Linked DNA regions of Homo sapiens. The protein of the gene in region 2 interacts with the protein of the main gene of each other region in a pairwise test. Each region holds a gene or a part of one and is shown on either strand. Other genes may lie near its edges. The genes, in order: RDH12 and ANXA8L1.

Region 1 (3,500 bases), on a different chromosome or scaffold from region 2:
ATCACGGCTGGGCACGGTGGCTCACACCTGTAATCCCAGGACTTTGGGAGGCTGAGGTGGGTGGATCACCTGAGGTCAGGAGTTCAAGAGCAGCCTGGCCAACAAGGCGAAACCCTGCCTCTACTAAAAATACAAAAAACAATTAGCCGGGTGTGGTGGTGGGCACCCGTAATCCCAGCTACTTGGGAGGCTGATGCAGGAGAATGGCTTGAACCCAGGAGGCAGAGGTTGCAGTGAGTGGAGATCACGCCACTGAAATCCAGCCTGGGCGACAAGACCGAAACTCCGTCTCAAAAAAAAGAAAAGTCTATCATTTAGTTGCTTTCTGTACAGTCTTTTTTTTTTTTTTGCTTTGTTTGGATATAAATAGAGATATAGTCTCTCTCTCTCTTTCTCTCTTACATAAAACCGGGATCATACTGTATCTAGTTTGAGGAGGATTTTTTTTTTTTTTTTGAGATAGGGTCTCACTTCATCACCCAGGCTGGAGTGCAGTGGCACTATCATGCAGCCTTGACCTCCCAGGCTGAAGCCATCCTCCCACCTTAGCCTCCCGAGTAGCTGGGACTACAGGCATGCACCACAATGCTGGGCTAATTTTTTGATTTTTAGTAGAGATGGGGGTCTCACTTTGTTGTCCAGGCTGGTATGGAATTCCCGAGCTCAAGCAATCCTCCTGCCTTGGCCTCCCAAAGTACTGGGACTACAGGCATGAGCCGCCACACCCAGCCTTAAATTTTTTTTTTTTTTTTTTTTTTTGAGACAGAGTCTCATTCTGTCGCCCAGGCTGGAGTGCAGTGGAGTGATCTCGGCTTACTGCAGCCTCCGCCTCCCAGGTTCAAGTGATTCTCCTGCCTCAGCCTCCTGAGTGGCTGGGATTACAGGCACCCACCAACATGATCAGCTAATTTTTTGTATTTTTAGTAGAGATGGGGTTACACCACGTTGGCCAGGCTGGTCTCAACTCCTGACCTCAAGTGATCCACCCACCTCAGCCTCCCAAAGTGCTGGGATTACATGCATGAGCCACTGCACCTGGCAAAATTTTTAAATAATAAAAAAACACCTAGAATAAAAAGATAAAAATCATCCTTCACACTCTGCTTGGCTCTCCCTAAAACTCCCTGGAAGTAACCACTACTGCCCAGTGGCTGGTTATCCCTCCAGACTGTTCTCTATGTATAAAAAATCATATAGTTTTGTATTCCAGTTTTTTCCTTACAACATTATATCACTAACATTTTTATATTAATTACATATTATATTAAAATATGATATTTAATGACTGTATATTTTATTACATATTTAAGGCAGCAATGTTAAACACTCAGACTCTAGAGTAGCAACTGTCCAATAGAAATATGATGGGAAGACCAGGCGCAGTGGCTCACGCCTGCAATCCCAGCACTTTGGGAGGCTGAGGTGGGCGGATCACTTGAGGTCAGGAGTTCAAGACCAGCCTGGTCAACATGGCAAAACTCCATCTCTACTAGAAATACAAAAACTAGCTGGGCGTCGTGGCATGCACCTGTAATCCCAGCTACTCGGGAGGCTGAGGCAGGAGGATCCCTTGAACCCAGGAGGTGGAGGTTGCAGTGAGCCAAGATCATGCCATTGCACTCCAGCCTGGGCAACAGAGTGAGACTATGTCTCCAAAAAAAAAAAAAAAAAAAAAAAAGAAAGAAAGAAATATGATGAGAAACACAATTGTGAGCCACATATGTCATTTTGAATTTTCTAGCAGCTACATTTAAAATGTAAAAAGAAATTGGTGAAATTTATTTAGTAACATTTAATTACACATTCATTTATTGAGTTAATAAATATGTACTTTATTTAACCCACAAATAGCAAAATCATTTTAGCATGCAATCAATATAAAAAATGAGATATCTTTTATCTCATTTAAAAATATAAAATGAGATAACTTACACTTCTTTTTTTATACTATAGGTTGAGCATCCCTTATCAGAAATGCTTGGGGCTGGGCGCGGTGGCTCACGCCTGTAATCCCAGCACTTTAGGAGGCCAAGGCAGGTGGATCAACTGACGTCAGGAGTTCAAGACCAGCCTGGCCAACATGGTGAAAGCCCATCTCGACTAAAAATACAAAAACTAGTCAGGTGTGGTGGCGGGCACCTGTAATCCCAGCTACTCAGGAGGCTGAGTCAGGAGAATCGCTTGAACCCAGGAGGCTGAAGTTGCAGTGAGCCAAGATCAAGCCATTGCCCTCCAGCCTGAGTGACAAGAGTGAAAATCCATCTCAAAAAAAAATGCTTGGGATCAGAAGTATTTAGGATTTTACATTTATTTGAATTATGAAATATTTGCATTGTACTTACCAGCTGAGCATCTCAAACCCCAAAAATCTAAAACCCGAAATACTCTGAAATCCAAAACATTTTTAGCAGCAACATGCAACTCAAAGGAAATGCTTACTGAAATATTCCGGACTCCGAATTTTCAGATTTGTGATGCTCAACCTGTATGTCTTCAAAAATCTGGTATGCACTGTACACTTACAGTGCATCTCAATCTGGACTAGCCATATTTCAAGTGCTCAATAGCAACATGTGGCTAGTGGCTACCATACTGAATGGCACAGCTCTAGAGCCAGATTGCCAGGGCGTAAATCCCAGATCTACCACTTATAAGCTATATGACTTTGAGCAAGTTTCTTAATTATCTTGCGCCTCAGTTTCATGTGAAAACTTGGGGTAATATTACCTGCCTCGCAGGGTTGTGATGATTATATGAATTAATACACATTACACACTCAGAACTGAGTACCAAACACATTATAAAAACTCAAGCAACATTAGCTATTATCACTTATCCATTCCCCTCTCATCAGACACTAAGACTATTTCCAGTGCTTCACGGAATAAATACTGCACTGATGAAAAGCCTTGAACAAAGCGGGACAACAGAGCAGACAGGGCTGGATTCTGTCATGGAATGGGAAAGAGATTTCACCCTGGGCTTCCCTTTACTCCCAGACTCTAGTTGCTCATTGAGTTCATGATAAGATTCAGCACTAAAATTTCTACTTCTATATTTCAACAGATAGTGCCAATCTTGGCAGCATTGAGGGACAGAGTTCACACCGAAGAGAGAGGACGTTCCCCTAGCACTTTGTGCTAATTGGTATTTAAAAATTCATGAATCAAGTGAGCCAAAAGCTTAAAGAAGGAGAAAAACGATCCAGATCTCCATGGCATAACCAACAGCGACAGTCTTCTTTAAAAGCTTTCAGAAAGCTGCAAAGTTTTCATGGAAAAGCGGCACACGAGTATAAAATAAAGCCAGAAAAGCAACTCTTCCCAACACATAAGTTTGTACTGTAAGTTTCCTTAACAAAGCAACGGCATTCTGTTTGCAGGCCCAACCCAAACCTGGATTGCATCATCAGGCACAAACTCAGCTTCTCAGGATGAACAGCCCAGCGAGTCCGGCACCTCCCATGCACACAGGTGGTGGAGAGAACCGCATTGCCTTCA
Region 2 (3,773 bases):
AGTGCCACTCACCTGCTGAGAGGTACCAGGGAGGGAGGGGCTGGGGCCGGGGCCACAGGGGTGTCCTGGCCATGAGCCTCTCCCTCGTGCTTCTGCCTTGTCAAGTCTAGAGTTAGGGAGAGAGCCAGGGAGCCCAGGACTGTTTCCCCAGCCACCAGTGGGAGGTCAGGGCGGCAAATTGATGTGCGATCTCTGATCCGAGACACTGAGGGGCATCACGAGGAGGTCTGACCATCCCCTGAGCAGAGCCCTCTCCACAGTGTTTGAAGAGTATGAGAAAATTGCCAACAAGAGCATTGAGGACAGCATCAAGAGTGAGACCCATGGCTCACTGGAGGAGGCCATGCTCACTGTGGGTAAGAGCTCAGACTTGCACGTTTTTCAGGCCACAGGGCTCACCGTGGGGCAGCACCAAAGAACAAAGGGCCTAGGGATGCGACCACAAGAGAAAGAATCCCTGTGTCACCTTCACGGGATGTCCCCCCGACTCACACTCTGCCTGTCTCCCTCACCCAGGGACTGCTCCACCTCTAGAGTCCCAGTGTGTGCTGCCAAAGATTGTTCTCTGTGCTGCCCACGTGGTGCCCAGTGCTGTGTGGGTGTGTCTGCATGAGTGTGTGTGTGCGTGAGAGTGTGTGTGCCTGAGGGTGTGTGTGCATGACTGTGGGTGGAATGTGAGTGTGTGTGTGTGAGACAGACAGTGTGTGTGTGTGCGCACACAAATGCATACGCCAGTGATTATGCCAGCCCCAACCCTGTGTGTACTCATGGCAGCCATGCAGGGAGCACTCTGGCTGTGGTTGTGAAGCCCTGGCCAGCACAAAGTCATCTTTCTGGACATGAACCAGGGGCCTGGCCCCTGCCTTCATTGCCAGTTGAAGAAACAGTGATGTGTGGCTTGAGTCCAAACTGAGTGACGGATGGTCTGATGCTGAGAAACACTGGGGATCTTCCCCACAGCAGGAAGTCAGGGCCACTCAGGAGGACCCACTCCAGAGCTCTCATGGGTTCCAGGGCTGAGATCACAATGGGAAGAGTCACTGCAGAGTAAAGAGCTGAGGCCCAGGGCAGAGGGACGTCTCTTCTCCCACTTACACACAGAGCCCAGGTCCGGACTCCTGGCCTGCAGCTCTCACCTCCACACCAGGCTGCCTCCGTGCAAAGCCAGCAGCCAGCAGGCTCCCTGCTGTTTCCTAGCCTCTCTGGGTGGACAGGGCCATCTGAGACACCCCAGCTGGCCTTGGATGCTGTGATACAATCCGGTCTATGTCAGGACATCTAATCACACCCCTGCTCCAATCTCAGCTTCCACCCCTGGATCTGGCCTGAACCCACCAAGAATGAAGTCTGCCAGCAGGGAATAGTGAAGCCATGCAGTGCTCCGTCATGCTGGGCCTTCCTATTCACTTCACCTTGAAGCCTCGCATCAGTCTCACTTCCCAGATGAGTCAGGGAGGTTGAGTAATGAAGCCATACTGCACCATCAAGGCAGGAAGTGAACACATGCCTACCTCACTCAAAGCCCATGCTCCTTCTGCAGCCCTAAGTGAAAATGCCAACCTTCCCCACCCAGATGCCAAGTCTCTGAGCAGTACCCATGGGAGCAAGCATGGGCCCAGTCTCTGGACCAGACGCCCCCAGGTGCCTTAGTCCTGTGGGGCCAAACTCCACTTGTCACATGGGAATTCAAAATGCAGGGTTTCTGCTGATAAGTGTGAGAGAGAGGGCACTCTGAGGCCAGCAGCCACCATCCCATGGTGCTTCTGTGGAGCTGAGAGGCTGGATTTTTGGTGGAGGTGTCTCTGGGTTGAGAGCCCAGGGCCTGTCCTGAGTCTGAGCTGCCCTTGGATGGGCTTGAGCTGGTGTCTTCAGACGAGCCCCACAGTCTGGTGCATTTCACATCTTACCCTTTTGCCTGCCTGCTTGGGCCTTTGGAGCTGTGCCCAGTGCCCCGGGCTACCTTCCCTGTCCCACGCCACCTGACACAAAGCCTCTCACATTGGGAAAGGCACGGAACAAAGAAATATGCCAAGCCTTGCACAACACTGACTCTTAAGACCTAAGGCAAGACATAAAGTTGTAGGCAGTGCCACCTACCAGCTCCAGACATTAACACAGCTTTCTTGTTTGCCAGTGAAATGCACCCAAAACCTCCACAGCTACTTTGCAGAGAGACTCTACTATGCCATGAAGGTAACTGTCCTGTCTTCTTCTTCCTGACGCTCACCCTACATAGCACCAAGTGCAAAGCCAAGGAGCTCAAAGCCACCACGATCCTCCACACGGGGGAGTTATCTTACCCAAACCTGTCGTGGATCAGAAAGGTTTTAGTTCTCGGAGGTGAAATTGAGTCTGGGAAAGGGACGCTGCATCTCCAGAGGTGAATAATTCCCTGAAACTAAAACCATTGCCCGTTTTCTCTGATTGATGGTTGCTGATATCCCCTGAAGTTAGTTCCACACCCGAAACCCAAGCCCTCTGGCCACTTCTGCCCAGGAAATGAGAGAGGGCATGCGATTCCCTTGGCCATGTGGCCCCAGCTGACATGAGACTGGTCAGGGATGAAGGTGAGCAGGAAGGCCCTGCCTGTGAAATTCCTGGCTGAGCTGATTGCTGCCATTGCTCTAGTAGGAAGTCTTGTTCCTGGAGCAGTGAGTATTTTGTGTCTAGAATCTGATGTGGCAAACCAAACATACTGCAGTTTGGAGCACTTGGCATCATAAAGGAAGAGTTCTGGGCAGTGGGTGAGAAGGAATTAAGGGAGTGGACACCCTAAGCCACCAAAGCTTCCCTCCTAATGCTTCCCTGGCTGAAGCACAGGCTCCTTCCCACATCTCCCTCCCTCTAAAAGCCCCAGAACCCAACCACACAGATCCGTCCATCACTCAGAGATGGACAGGAAAGGTGAGGCAGGATTGTTGATGGCTGCTGTCTTGCCCAGGGAGCAGGGACGCGTGATGGGACCCTGATAAGAAACATCGTTTCAAGGAGCGAGATTGACTTAAATCTTATCAAATGTCACTTCAAGAAGATGTACGGCAAGACCCTCAGCAGCATGATCATGGTAAGCAGGCATTCCCAATGCTGAGGCCAGCCTGAAACCCAGACATTCAGGGAAACCTGGAGGCTGTGGCCAACACTACGTGAGCCCCTCCCTTCCCAGTGGGCACCATGTGCTTGCATTCATGACCATGTGGTGTGTGCAGGGAACAGCAGAGGTCAGTGTGGCTGGATCCCAAGGGGAATGGGGGGCAGAGGGGAGATGCAGAGACCAGGGCACAGAGGCTCCCCTGTGTCCCACTCAGAAAGTTGGTTTCACATTTAAGTTATGGTTGCTCCTTGGAAAAGACACCAAATCCTTGCAGAAGAAGCCACCTCTGAATAGTCAATGAGATGAACTAGTCCGGTAGGAATCGGGCCCACCGCTCAAATCCAGATTTAAGTAGTCCTGGCGGCCAACTTCTAAGGAGATAAGTCAGATGAGCGCCAATAGACTATCTAACCAGATTCCAATTAGCAAAAGTTCTGGAGCCTTCAAAACACAGACTGATTATCACGCTGCGATAATTGGGAGAAACAGCTCTTCTGGGGGTGTCTGCAAATTGAGGTCTTGATGATTTCATTAGCAGAAGTCACATTAGGACAAATGTATCCCCAAGTTTTCTTTGGCTACTAAGTCAAGTCTCTAGCTCTTCTGCAAATGTCGTTGTTAAGTGCACTTTTCAAGAAACACATAGCTGACAATAGGTGGAAAAGACATTTCTGTTTCCAGA

The links.
Region 1: the proteins of ANXA8L1 (region 2) and RDH12 interact in a two-hybrid assay, tested with the Homo sapiens proteins (one large-scale study listed by BioGRID).

Annotation. Positions count from the first base shown.
Region 1 is NC_000014.9:67,729,386-67,732,885, reverse strand, and holds part of RDH12 (retinol dehydrogenase 12), read right to left. Parts: exon of another isoform or gene 3,145-3,500; coding exon of another isoform or gene 3,067-3,144; intron 1-3,066. UniProt on the Homo sapiens protein: Retinoids dehydrogenase/reductase with a clear preference for NADP. Displays high activity towards 9-cis, 11-cis and all-trans-retinal. Shows very weak activity towards 13-cis-retinol.
Region 2 is NC_000010.11:46,385,452-46,389,224, forward strand, and holds part of ANXA8L1 (annexin A8-like protein 1), read left to right. Parts: coding exon 1-22; intron 23-260; coding exon 261-356; intron 357-2,134; coding exon 2,135-2,193; intron 2,194-2,941; coding exon 2,942-3,064; intron 3,065-3,773.